3 linked regions of the Homo sapiens genome follow. The protein of the gene in region 3 purifies or fractionates together with the protein of the main gene of each other region. This does not show direct contact. Each region holds a gene or a part of one and is shown on either strand. Other genes may lie near its edges. The genes, in order: SPTBN4, SERPINB9 and TIMD4.

Region 1 (3,652 bases), on a different chromosome or scaffold from region 3:
CGCATTGACCGGCTGCCGGAGATCCCGGGGAGGGTGGAGCCCGCGGCCCTGCCGGCCGCACCAGAGGACGCGGCGGAGACCCCCGCGACCCCCGCGGCGGCGGAGCAGGTGCGGCCACGACCGGAGCGCCAGGAGTCAGCTGATCGCGCGGAGGAGCTGCCCAGGAGGCGGCGGCCTGAGCGGCAAGAGTCAGTCGATCAATCCGAGGAGGCTGCGCGGAGGCGGCGGCCGGAGCGGCAGGAGTCAGCGGAGCACGAGGCGGCACACAGCCTTACCCTGGGCCGCTATGAGCAGATGGAGCGGCGGCGCGAGCGGCGTGAGCGGCGCTTGGAGCGGCAGGAGTCCAGCGAACAGGAGATGCCCATCAGAGGAGACCTGGTCAAGGGGTGAGGTGCCCGCCTTATGACCAGAAAGTGAGGGGAGGGGAAAGCGGAGAGCTCCTAGAACCCCTCAGGCCCAGTGAAAGGGCTTCAGGGCTCAGAACTTCCCAAAGAAGGAGATATCGCCGCGGTACCCATTTTGCAGAGGTGTAAACTGAAGCTGCAAGATAATCGATGTGCCCATTGTTACACAGAAAGGGGAGCCCTTCCTGTTGAAAGAAAAGGCAGACTGCCTTTCTCCAGACGTAGGTTCTCGGCCCCTGGGTTGTGACTCCTGCATCAAGTCTCCCGGGTGCCCCGAGGCAGGGATTTTGTCCTCTCTGTGCCTCAGTTTGCCCACTGGGCTAATGGTGGAACCCTCACCTCCTTGATTGGAGAGGAGACCCTTTATCACAATTCTCTCAGCAGCCTTATGAAGTGGGGGCTGTTGTCTTCTCCATTGTATGACTAGGGCAACTGAGGCACAAAAAGGGCAAGTCACTCAGCTTAAACGAACCAGGACTTTCAGAATCCAGAGTTGGCCAGTGTGTGTTGTGCAGATCTGTCCAGTCAGCTGAGTGTGTCTCCAGAAAGAGGCCTTTGGTCAGGAGACAATGACTTCTTGATTCTTTTTAAATTGCACATTTCATGAACATTTGCTGAGTGCCCACTCTGCCTGGCATGTGCTGAGTCGAGCGGTGACTGAACCAGTCCCATCCCTGACTTTAGAGACTCACAGTCCATTGGGAAAAACAGGCTTGTCATCAATGATGACCGAGAATTATCTGGGCTGGAATGGGGGCGATTGGGGGACTGGAGAGTCAGGGGTGGGTGGAGAAAGGCAACGTTTGCAAGTTGTTCTTTGTGCTGCTTAAAATTCAAAGGGGCATCTGGGCGCGGTGGCTCACGCCTGTAATCTCAGCACTTTGGGAGGTTGAGGCGGGCAGATCACTTGAGGTCAGAAGTTCGAGACCAACCTGGCCAATATAGCAAAACCCTGTCTCTACTAAAAATGCAAAAATTAGCCGGCATGGTGGCGCACGCCTGTAGTACCAGCTACTTGGGAGGCTGAGGCAGGGGAATCGCTTCAACACAGGAGGCAGAGGTTGCAGTGAGCCGAGATCATGCACCACTACACTCCAGCCTGGGCAACAGAGAAAGACTCCGTCTCAAAAAAAAAAAAAAAAAAATTCAAAGGGGCGAGAGGTTTGGTCTTCCATTCAGCAGACACGTCCCAAACACCTGTGGTACCTAAGGCGAGCATCTGAGAGAAACAGCTGCAGAAGTGGGCAGGGGCCTGGCACTTCCAGCTAAGAAGTGGAGGCTCCTCTGCCCAGCCAGACAGGTCCATGGGAGAAGGAACCCTGGTTTCACTGGGTCTTTCTGTCCCCCATCCCCCAGGAAGGCCACCCTGGCTGACATTGTGGAACAGCTGCAGGAGAAAGAGGCAGGCCCAGGGCTGCCTGCTGGGGTAAGTTGAGCCTCGGATGGGTGGGGATAGGAGGACCCCTTTTTCAGAGCAGGAGGCAGGATCTCAGAAACAGCCAGTGCCTAGCCCTGGCAGGACCCATTCCCTACCTGGACCCTGCAGAGACAGCATGGACTCTCAGGGTCCCCAGAATCTGAAAATGTCCCCCTTAGAAAGACGGGGCACCTACCTAAGAGACCCCTACTGCCCCTCCACACACACACACACACACACACACACACACACACACAGACACACACACACAGACACACACACACAGACACACAGACACAGATACACACACAGACACACACACACAGACTCTTCCCACATCTGTCCTGGACTCCGTATTTCTTCAGCTCAGTGGGGTCCCAAATTTCTTCATAGCCTCATACACACACACACAGAAGGAAGCCCCAGGTTTCTCCTGCAGACAGTGGGGACACGCCCTGCTTGCACCCCCACCTCCAGAGATCTGGCTGCCTCTTTCCACCACCGAGAGAGATTCCAAACCAATGAGTCCTAACAGACTCACTCCCAAGACCCATGGGGCCCTAAGAATTGGGCCTCCAACCCTGAGGTCCTCCCATACTCGCCTCCGAGACAAATGGCCCTGTAGACAGATGGGACCCCAGACCCATGACTCCCCCAAACAGATGACCCCCACACCCTCTCCATGGACAGCACCCCTCTTCCCCCTCCCTTCACACAGCCGTCGCTGCCTCAGCCACGCGAGCTTCCCCCAGGTCGCCTGCCCAACGGGCTTGAGCTGCCCGAGCGGACACCTCGGCCGGACCGGCCCCGGGCGCGGGACCGGCCCAAGCCGCGACGGCGGCCGCGGCCCAGAGAGGGTGGTGAGGGCGGGGGAAGCCGGCGCTCGCGCTCCGCCCCGGCCCAGGGCGGCTCCGCCCCCGCGCCTCCGCCACCGCCCACTCACACAGTGCAGCACGAGGGCTTCCTACTGCGCAAGCGCGAGCTCGACGCTAACCGCAAGTCGTCCAACCGGTGAGCGTGTGGGCGGGGCTTTGGAAGGCGGGTCTCAGGCTCAGGGTGACCATTGCGTGGAGCGGTGGGACTGAGGAGGGGGTGTGGCTCAACTTCAGGCCCTCCAGCAGGTGGCGGTAGTAGGTGGGGCCAGAGCTGGGGGGTGGTGGTGGCTTAAATCAAGAAAGCCAACCAATGAGCAGGAGGGGGTGTGGTTTAACGTCAGGCCCTCCAACCCGTGGGGGTAGTAGGTGGGGCCAGATGAGGGGTGGGGCTCAACTTTGATGATTCCAACCAATGAACAGGAAGGGGCAGGACCTAAGGTTAGTGCATCTAATGGATGATGGGTAGAGCTTAGGTGGGAACAGAAGGAAAATGTTCTGAAAGTGAGTAAATTGGAACCTAACCTCTTAGCAACCAACCCAGGAGTTGATCAGCTAAATAGCAAAGAGGGAGGCATCTAGTTGAGAAGGTTTCAATGGCTTGTCGTGGAGCTTGGAGAGGTCACTCAACCAATGAGTGGGGTGGGTCTACCCTTGAAGTTTCAAATTGGGGGAGGGTCCGAAAACGGGCAGAGCCCAAACTAATGAGGGTAGGGGTTGGGAAGGGGGAGTCATCTCTTACAGGTTTCCAAATGAGGGTCTAGCCATGATGTGCCTGCTCTTGGGGAGTCCAGCTCCTGCTTGTCCACCCTCTTTTTGTCCAACTGAGAGGCAGAATCTGGGGACAAGTGGAGCCAAAAAGGGGTATCACCGGCCAGTAATGGAGTGAGTCCCAAGATATGAAGTGGGCAGGACAGATTCAGATTTTGCTAGTGGAATCTGTAGGTGGTCTTTCTTCC
Region 2 (3,652 bases), on a different chromosome or scaffold from region 3:
AAATACAGAATTATATAGATCATATTCTCTAACTTCAATGTAGTAACAAAAAATCAGCATTATAAATAAAATGCCAACAAAATGAAAATCACCTACAAAATATTACTGAAAACACTTTTCTAAATAATTAACTCTTCAAAGTAAAAATTAAAATACTTTTCTAGGCCAGGCACAGTGGCTCATGCCTATAATCCCAGCACTTTTGGAGGCCAAGGCAGGAGGATTGTTTGAGCCCAAGAGTTTGAGGCTAGCCTGGGCAACATTGCAAGATCCCATCTCCACTTAGCTGGGCATGATGGTGTGTGCCTGTGGTCCCAGCTACTTGGAAGGCTGAGATGGGAGGATTGCTGGAGCCCAGGACTTTGAGGCTGCAGTGAGCTATGATCAAGCTGCTGCACTCCAGCCTAGGAGACAGAGCAAGACCATGTCAAAAAAAAAAAAAAAACACAAAAAATCCTCTTCTAAACAAATATTTAAAATATTCTTCTAGGCTGGGCACAGTGGCTCATGCCTGTAATCCCAGCACTTTGGGGGGCCGAGGCGGGCAGATCACTTGAGGTCAGGAGTTCAAGACCAGCCTGGCCAAGATGGCGAAATCCTGTCTCTACTAAAAATACGAAAATTAGCCGGGTGTGGTGATGCTTGCTGGTAATCCCAGCTACTTGGGAGGCTGAGGCAGGAGAATCACTTGAACCCAGGAGGCGGAAGTTGCAGTGAGCCAAGGTCATACCACTGCACTCCAGCCTGGGCAACAGAGCAAGACTCCTTCTCAAAAAACAAACAAACAAACAAATTCTTCTAAATAAGTATATGACATATGATTTAGAAAATAATCAAAATATGGGTGATATATATTAGACCAAAGAGTTTGGCCAAAGATAAGTTAAAACATAGCATTGTTTTCAATATTACCAAGAAAGTAATAAAATGCTAAAACTTTAAAATCATTATGTTAGAAAAGATACAGAAAAACTCCCAAGGAATTTTGGGACAAACACAAAATGATCAATGAATCCAAGAGCTGGTTCTTTAAAAGAAAACACACATACATACAAAACAGACAGCCACCCACCACATGTAAGAAAAAGCACCCCAAAGTAAAGTTATATGTGAAAAAGAGGTTACAGCAATATAAACAAAGGGAATGTTAAAACAAAAACTCTATATAATTATTTTCAGTAAAGTACAGATTATAAGTTACCAAATGCCAGTCAAAAATATGAATACTAGCCAGGCATGGTGACATGTGCCTGTAATCCCAGCTACTCGGGAGGCTGAGGCAGGAGAATCACGTGAACTTGAACTCGGGAGTTGGAGGTCGTAGTGAGCTGAGATAGCACCACTGCACTCCAGCCTGGGTGACAGAGCAGAGACTCTATCTCAAAAAACAAAACAAAACAAACAAAACAAACAAAAAACAGAATCTATCAGTCACAATGAATGAACAAAAAAAAAATAAGAGGGAGAGAGAGAATTACTTCTAAAAAGGCTTAGATGATCTTTTGAGGGATTTTTTTTTCTAATATTCAAGCAATTTCTATTTCTCATGCAATACACACTGTTCTATAACATAGAAAAAAGAGGAAGCTACTAAATTTACTTTAGACAGCTCATAGACTGTTGATGAGAAACCCTGTCAAATAGAACAGAACCAAAAGCTAAGACCAATTTCACCTGAGGCTGTGACACCACTATTACTATTCATAGCCAACACATGTTGAGCACTTGCTTTACATGGACTGTCTCACCGAATCCTCACATTAGCTGAAAAATCATTTATAAAAGTAAAGATACCATATAATCACCAAAGTACAAAATGTCAAGTGAAAATCAGGAAATAGGGCCGGGCGCAGTGGCTCACGCCTGTAATCCCAGCACTTTGGGAGGCCAAGGCGGGTGGATCACGAGGTCAGGTGATCGAGACCATCCTGACTAACACAGTGAAACCCTGTCTCTACTAAAAATAAAAATTAGCTGGGCGTGGGGGCGGGCACCTGTAGTCCCAGCTACTCGGGAGGCTGAGGTGGAAGAATGGTGTGAACTCGGGGGGTGGAGCTTGCAGTAAGCTGAGATCGCACCACTGCACTCCAGCCTGGGCGACAGAGCAAGACTCTGTCTCGAAAAAAAAAAAAAGAAATAGGACTGGAGGAAGATGCTTTACATTATCAAGGGTGGTTGTCTCTGTTTGATGGATTCATAGGGATTTTTTCCTCCCTTCTACTTTTATTTTTTAAAAATTTTTATAGTGGACTTTTACCAGTTATATAATGAAGGAAAAATAAATAATTCTTTAAAATATTTCTGCTGCCATTAACGCTTCCCTGCATGTTACAGGTAGCAACGTGTACTCAGTATGTTTGGTGTCTCACAAGCATCCAGTTGAACACTGGAGCCATGGAGAGAGCTCAGTCTCACACCTAAGAAGGTACCCAGACAATTTTGGTGCTCTCAAAAAAGCTTTCTATAAGGGTTTATCAGTGAGCCTAAAACATAGAAAAAGATCATACAGATTTCAGCATAAGGAACTTCAGAATCAAAATGGAGTCACTAATATTAAAAAAACAAAACCAAAAACCTTTGACAAACAGACAGGGAAGGCCATGAAGAGAGGGTTCTCACGCTTGAATGCCTGATAACACAACTATCACAAAGGACTCTAAAAACCTACGCTCTTGCACAAAGGCCATCACAGCCTTACACAACAAAATACTTGTGCAAGGACATCTACCCAGGAACTCCCCATCCAACCTCACACTGACATCACCTTCGTTATTGATCTTTTTGCCAAAAATAATTATTTCAAAGGAATTATGTAATCCTCTTTACTTTTTCCTTTAAAAATCTTAGTGTTATTTCACCTCCCTGAATGTGCACATAGCTTGCCATGGCATGCGTATTTTCATTGCAATGCCCTATTTCCAAATATATATATCTTTTAGAGAGCCTCTCTGTGCTTATTATTAAGGCTGGTAGCCTTTACACATAAACCCTCCCTTCTTCACACAATGAGCTGGGAAATTATTAAAATGAGTAATTCACTATTGAAAAGCGTCATCAAAGAAAAAGACAGTCATATTGAACAAAGGACAACTCCCATGATGAAGGCGTGTCCAGCGGCCTGCACTCAGGGATGGCGCTTTTCGGTTTCATCTCACGTGTATGTCTCCTCTCCTTTCCACAAAGGTCTGGGGACAAGCACTGATCTTGAATCATTTCCACAGGTTCTCTGAATGTTGGTGAGACTGAGCTGAGCAGTACCTGCACAGTGTGCAGCTGTAATGAAGCACTTGCCCTGGAATCCTTCTTGCAAATTTCTGTTGATGCCCTCCCTGAGCTGTTGGTACAGAAACAACTTGAAACAGGTATTAACCTTCCTTACCAATGAAAGTTTAGTTACAAAGTCTCTTGCTCCAAAAAAGAGGTAGTTCTTTGCAACTTATGTTTCAAATAATTTCAGTGTCATTTTCTAAAGAAAGATTCTGCGCTAGGACAAGACAGCTTGGATGGTCTTTTCCAAGGGATTAACCGAGGAAAGTTTCCCCCAAATAAATCTCGGTGGAGCAGAGTTCCTGCCTCCCTGCCCTGCCCCACTTCTTCCCCAGTGGACCCCGCCTCCCTGAAACGGCCAGTGCACACTCGGGCCCCAGTCCTG
Region 3 (3,370 bases):
TAGGCTCTGTGCTGCTCATATCATACCTGCAGTGAGACAATGAACTCTGAAAGCTGGGCATAAAAGGAGAGATACGAATCCATACGAGATGAAGGCAATTAGGGTAACAAAAGAACCAGAAATTGTATCCCAGAAGCAAGGAAATTTGGAGAAACATGAGATTCTCCTTCTAATACCTGAAGAGTTAACAGCTCTCCAGTACTTCCCAGCATGCTTAGAGCAATAGCAACATTAATGGAATAAGCACATGTTTCTCCAAAGGTAACCATCTTTTGGATTTCTACTCTCTTGACATTACCTTTAAGAGAGAAAAAAAAAAATCAGTCTTATTGACTGATGGAGCCTATAGATTTTTTGTCCTGTTAGTTCACACAACACTGATCCGGCAGTTAATAAAGGAGATGTTCTGATAGGCATAAGGAGCTCAACTATGACCTATGGGCAGATGTCATCCGGAGACAGATTTTGCTATAAATATTTCTTAATCTCAGAACTGCTCTGAGATTGAATGGACTCCCTTGCGTGTGGTAAGGAGTTCACTGTCACTGAAAGTGTTCAAGTGTACTGTGAAAGATCACTTAGCGGTGATTCTACAGAGATGATTAGAGCATGGACAGAGAAGTTGTGGTCTCTAAAGTACCCTTCATTCATGAAACTAAAGCAAGCCTGGATCAATGACATCCATGGAATAAGTGAGTCTTTTTTATGAAACAAGGAAATCTACTAAGACTTATTTTGACACTGGAGTGTCATGCCCCCATCCTCAATCTAACATGCTACTGCGTTGTTAGAGGGTAAAAAGGCCGTCTTCGTCTTCCCTTCCATGCTGCACGTCATTGAGGACATTTTTACTATCTCCAATGTAGTCTAGCCTGTAAACAGAAAAGAGGGGCTCATAATGGGAAACACAAGACTAGAAAACAAAACAAAACAGATGCTGCTAAGTTACAGTGCAATTACCCTTAAAGTTCAAAGGGCTCACAGTTCATTTAGTCTAAGCTCCACATTTTACAGATGGGAAAACTGAGGCTGCAGGGGAAAAAGAGTTTCTGCCAATCCATTATAATGAGATAAAAAAGATTCTTAGCAAAATATAAAATCATGATTTCAATACGTTTATTTACCAAAAGGTCTCTAAGTGTGACCTTGAAAGGTCACCTCGCTGGGTGTCAATTTTCCTTCTTGCTAATACATATTGTGGTATTAATGCAACTAATTAGTGAATGCAATTAATTAGGCAAGGACTTCATTAATAATTTATGCCTTTTTTAAAAATTTCTTTTCCAAAAGCTATAGAATAGGGCAAATAGCTAAAATCCCTTACTAGAGAATCTTCAAATACTATTTTTAAAAAGGCCCCAAAACAAGCTGCTTCCATGGTCTAACTGGGCAGAGGAACCAACTCCCAGGAATAATATTCTACATGCTTTTTTCATTTTCCATATTGCCAACGCTCCTCAATAAACTCCAGTTTAACAATGGCCTCTTAAACTAACTTACCCATAGGTGAACAAAAAATTTCAGAGTAAAGTGCCATATCACCTTCTTTCTTTTGCGTGCTATACTTCTATTAATCCCACCTGCCTTGGTACTGGCATTTTGCTCAGAGTGTTAACCAAGACACAGGTTAATGTGAGCTAAATCTGCACAACTTTTTCACTTCTAATGTCACATCTTTCCAACTCTATGTGTAATCGTAACACAAGCTCAAGTCATTAAACCACTGAGTAGTAGCTAATCATTTGTAACAGCTTGTACAATCATTACAACACCCATTCATGCAAGATAGATTACCTTGTGTGTTTCTGCGAACAATAGGTTTCCATGAGTTTCCCTGAAAAGACAAGGCCACAGTGTGAGCAGAGTGGCTGCGGTGCATAGAACATGCAAAATGCTGGGGGAATTCCAGTGCTGCCCCGCAAAGAGCAGATATGGGCCAAAGGTGAGAACCAGTGGCTGGCTTTGGCAGAAAAAGCCATTCCCTTTCCCAGGTCAAACACTTGCTATTTTAACCACAGTTAGTGCTCATCAATTACCAAGTTGTTCCAACATTCTGGGCAATGGTGTTAAGCTATTTCATTCTGAGTCATCTGCCTATCCAGAATTCAAGCACTCACTTGGGTTTCAAAACACTTCTTTACGAGACATACTCAGAATTTTCCAAAACTGTAATCATGCCTTTGTATGAAGGCTAACAGCAGGATTCCAGTAAATTTTAAATTTGCTTTTGCACCTGGGGCAGGTGTTGAAATATACAAGTTTCATTATTATTCAAATCAGCTGAGATGGTTACTAGTCTCATCTCCTGACATACTGCCCTGAAACAGCTTTTGTTAATGAGTACAGAACAATTTATCCCCATTTTACAACAGTACCAGGTGCCACGTGCCTATAATTTGCCTGAAAACCATAAGCTGTTTCATGGCTGTTTTTGTAGCATTTTAAAACTTTTGGGGGCGGGGGGCAGGGGTGGGATGGAGGTGCAAGGTCATGGAGCAGCTTGCTAACTTAATGAAAACTACAGACCTTGTCCCCTGAAAAATGCAGGCATGAACACATAAACACTTTTGCATGTGATTTCAAAGGATTCACATTACCCTTGAAGTCCATCTGTGGCCTCCAGGTTAAGAAAGCTTGCTTTTAGGGAACATATAAGAAAACCAGGATCACGCCAGGCATGGTGGCTCATGCCTGTAATCCCAGAGCTTTGGGAGGCTAAAGTGGGTGGATCACCTGAGGTCAGGAGTTTGAGTCCAACCTAGCCCACATGGTGAAACCCCCTCCTACTAAACATACAAAAATTAGTCCCGTGTGATGGCGTGAACCTGTAGTCTCAGCTACTCAGGAGGCTGAGGCAGGAGAATCACTTGAACCCAGGAGGCGGAGGTGCAGTAAGCTGAGATCACGCCACTGCACTCCAGCCTGGACAACAGAATGAGACTCTCTCAAAAAAAAAAAAAAAAAAAAAAAAAAAAAAGAAGAAGAAAACCAGGATTGTTCATGGTCTTCGTCCTGCAACAATCCTAGCCAAAAGAAGAGACAAGCTAGGGTTTTCCCAACCAAAGAACAGAGAAAGTGAACAAAGTAGGAAATAGTACTTTCCTCTTAAGGCAGTAATAGGGATAAAATGAATTAGGCACATCAAGAGTATACCATCAGGACTGGCACAGAAATGTCCAATAAATGAAGGTGCTCTTCTGCTTTTTTTCCTTTTCCAAAACGTAAACTCTACCAGGAGGTTAATACACAGAGTCATTAGCAGCTTGGGGAGAATGAACTTACCTGTTACTTCCCTGGCTGGGATGGGAACAATGGCAGAACTGAGCCTCTTTGGGGAGGGATAAAGGGGAAGGAAGTGGAGACAACTCCA

What was found.
Region 1: the proteins of TIMD4 (region 3) and SPTBN4 purify together in Homo sapiens (affinity purification with mass spectrometry; one large-scale study listed by BioGRID and IntAct). This does not show direct contact.
Region 2: the proteins of TIMD4 (region 3) and SERPINB9 purify together in Homo sapiens (affinity purification with mass spectrometry; one large-scale study listed by BioGRID and IntAct). This does not show direct contact.

What each region holds. Positions count from the first base shown.
Region 1 is NC_000019.10:40,567,897-40,571,548, forward strand, and holds part of SPTBN4 (spectrin beta chain, non-erythrocytic 4), read left to right. Parts: coding exon 1-386; intron 387-1,760; coding exon 1,761-1,830; intron 1,831-2,539; coding exon 2,540-2,832; intron 2,833-3,652.
Region 2 is NC_000006.12:2,896,695-2,900,346, forward strand, and holds part of SERPINB9 (serpin B9), read right to left. Parts: intron 3,363-3,652; exon of another isoform or gene 3,222-3,362; intron 2,426-3,221; exon of another isoform or gene 2,335-2,425; intron 1,376-2,334; exon of another isoform or gene 1,247-1,375; coding exon of another isoform or gene 1,232-1,246; intron 1-1,231. UniProt on the Homo sapiens protein: Granzyme B inhibitor.
Region 3 is NC_000005.10:156,918,670-156,922,039, forward strand, and holds the end of TIMD4 (T-cell immunoglobulin and mucin domain-containing protein 4 isoform 1 precursor), read right to left. Parts: intron 1,835-3,370; coding exon 1,795-1,834; intron 873-1,794; coding exon 788-872; 3' UTR 623-787; downstream 1-622. UniProt on the Homo sapiens protein: Phosphatidylserine receptor that plays different role in immune response including phagocytosis of apoptotic cells and T-cell regulation.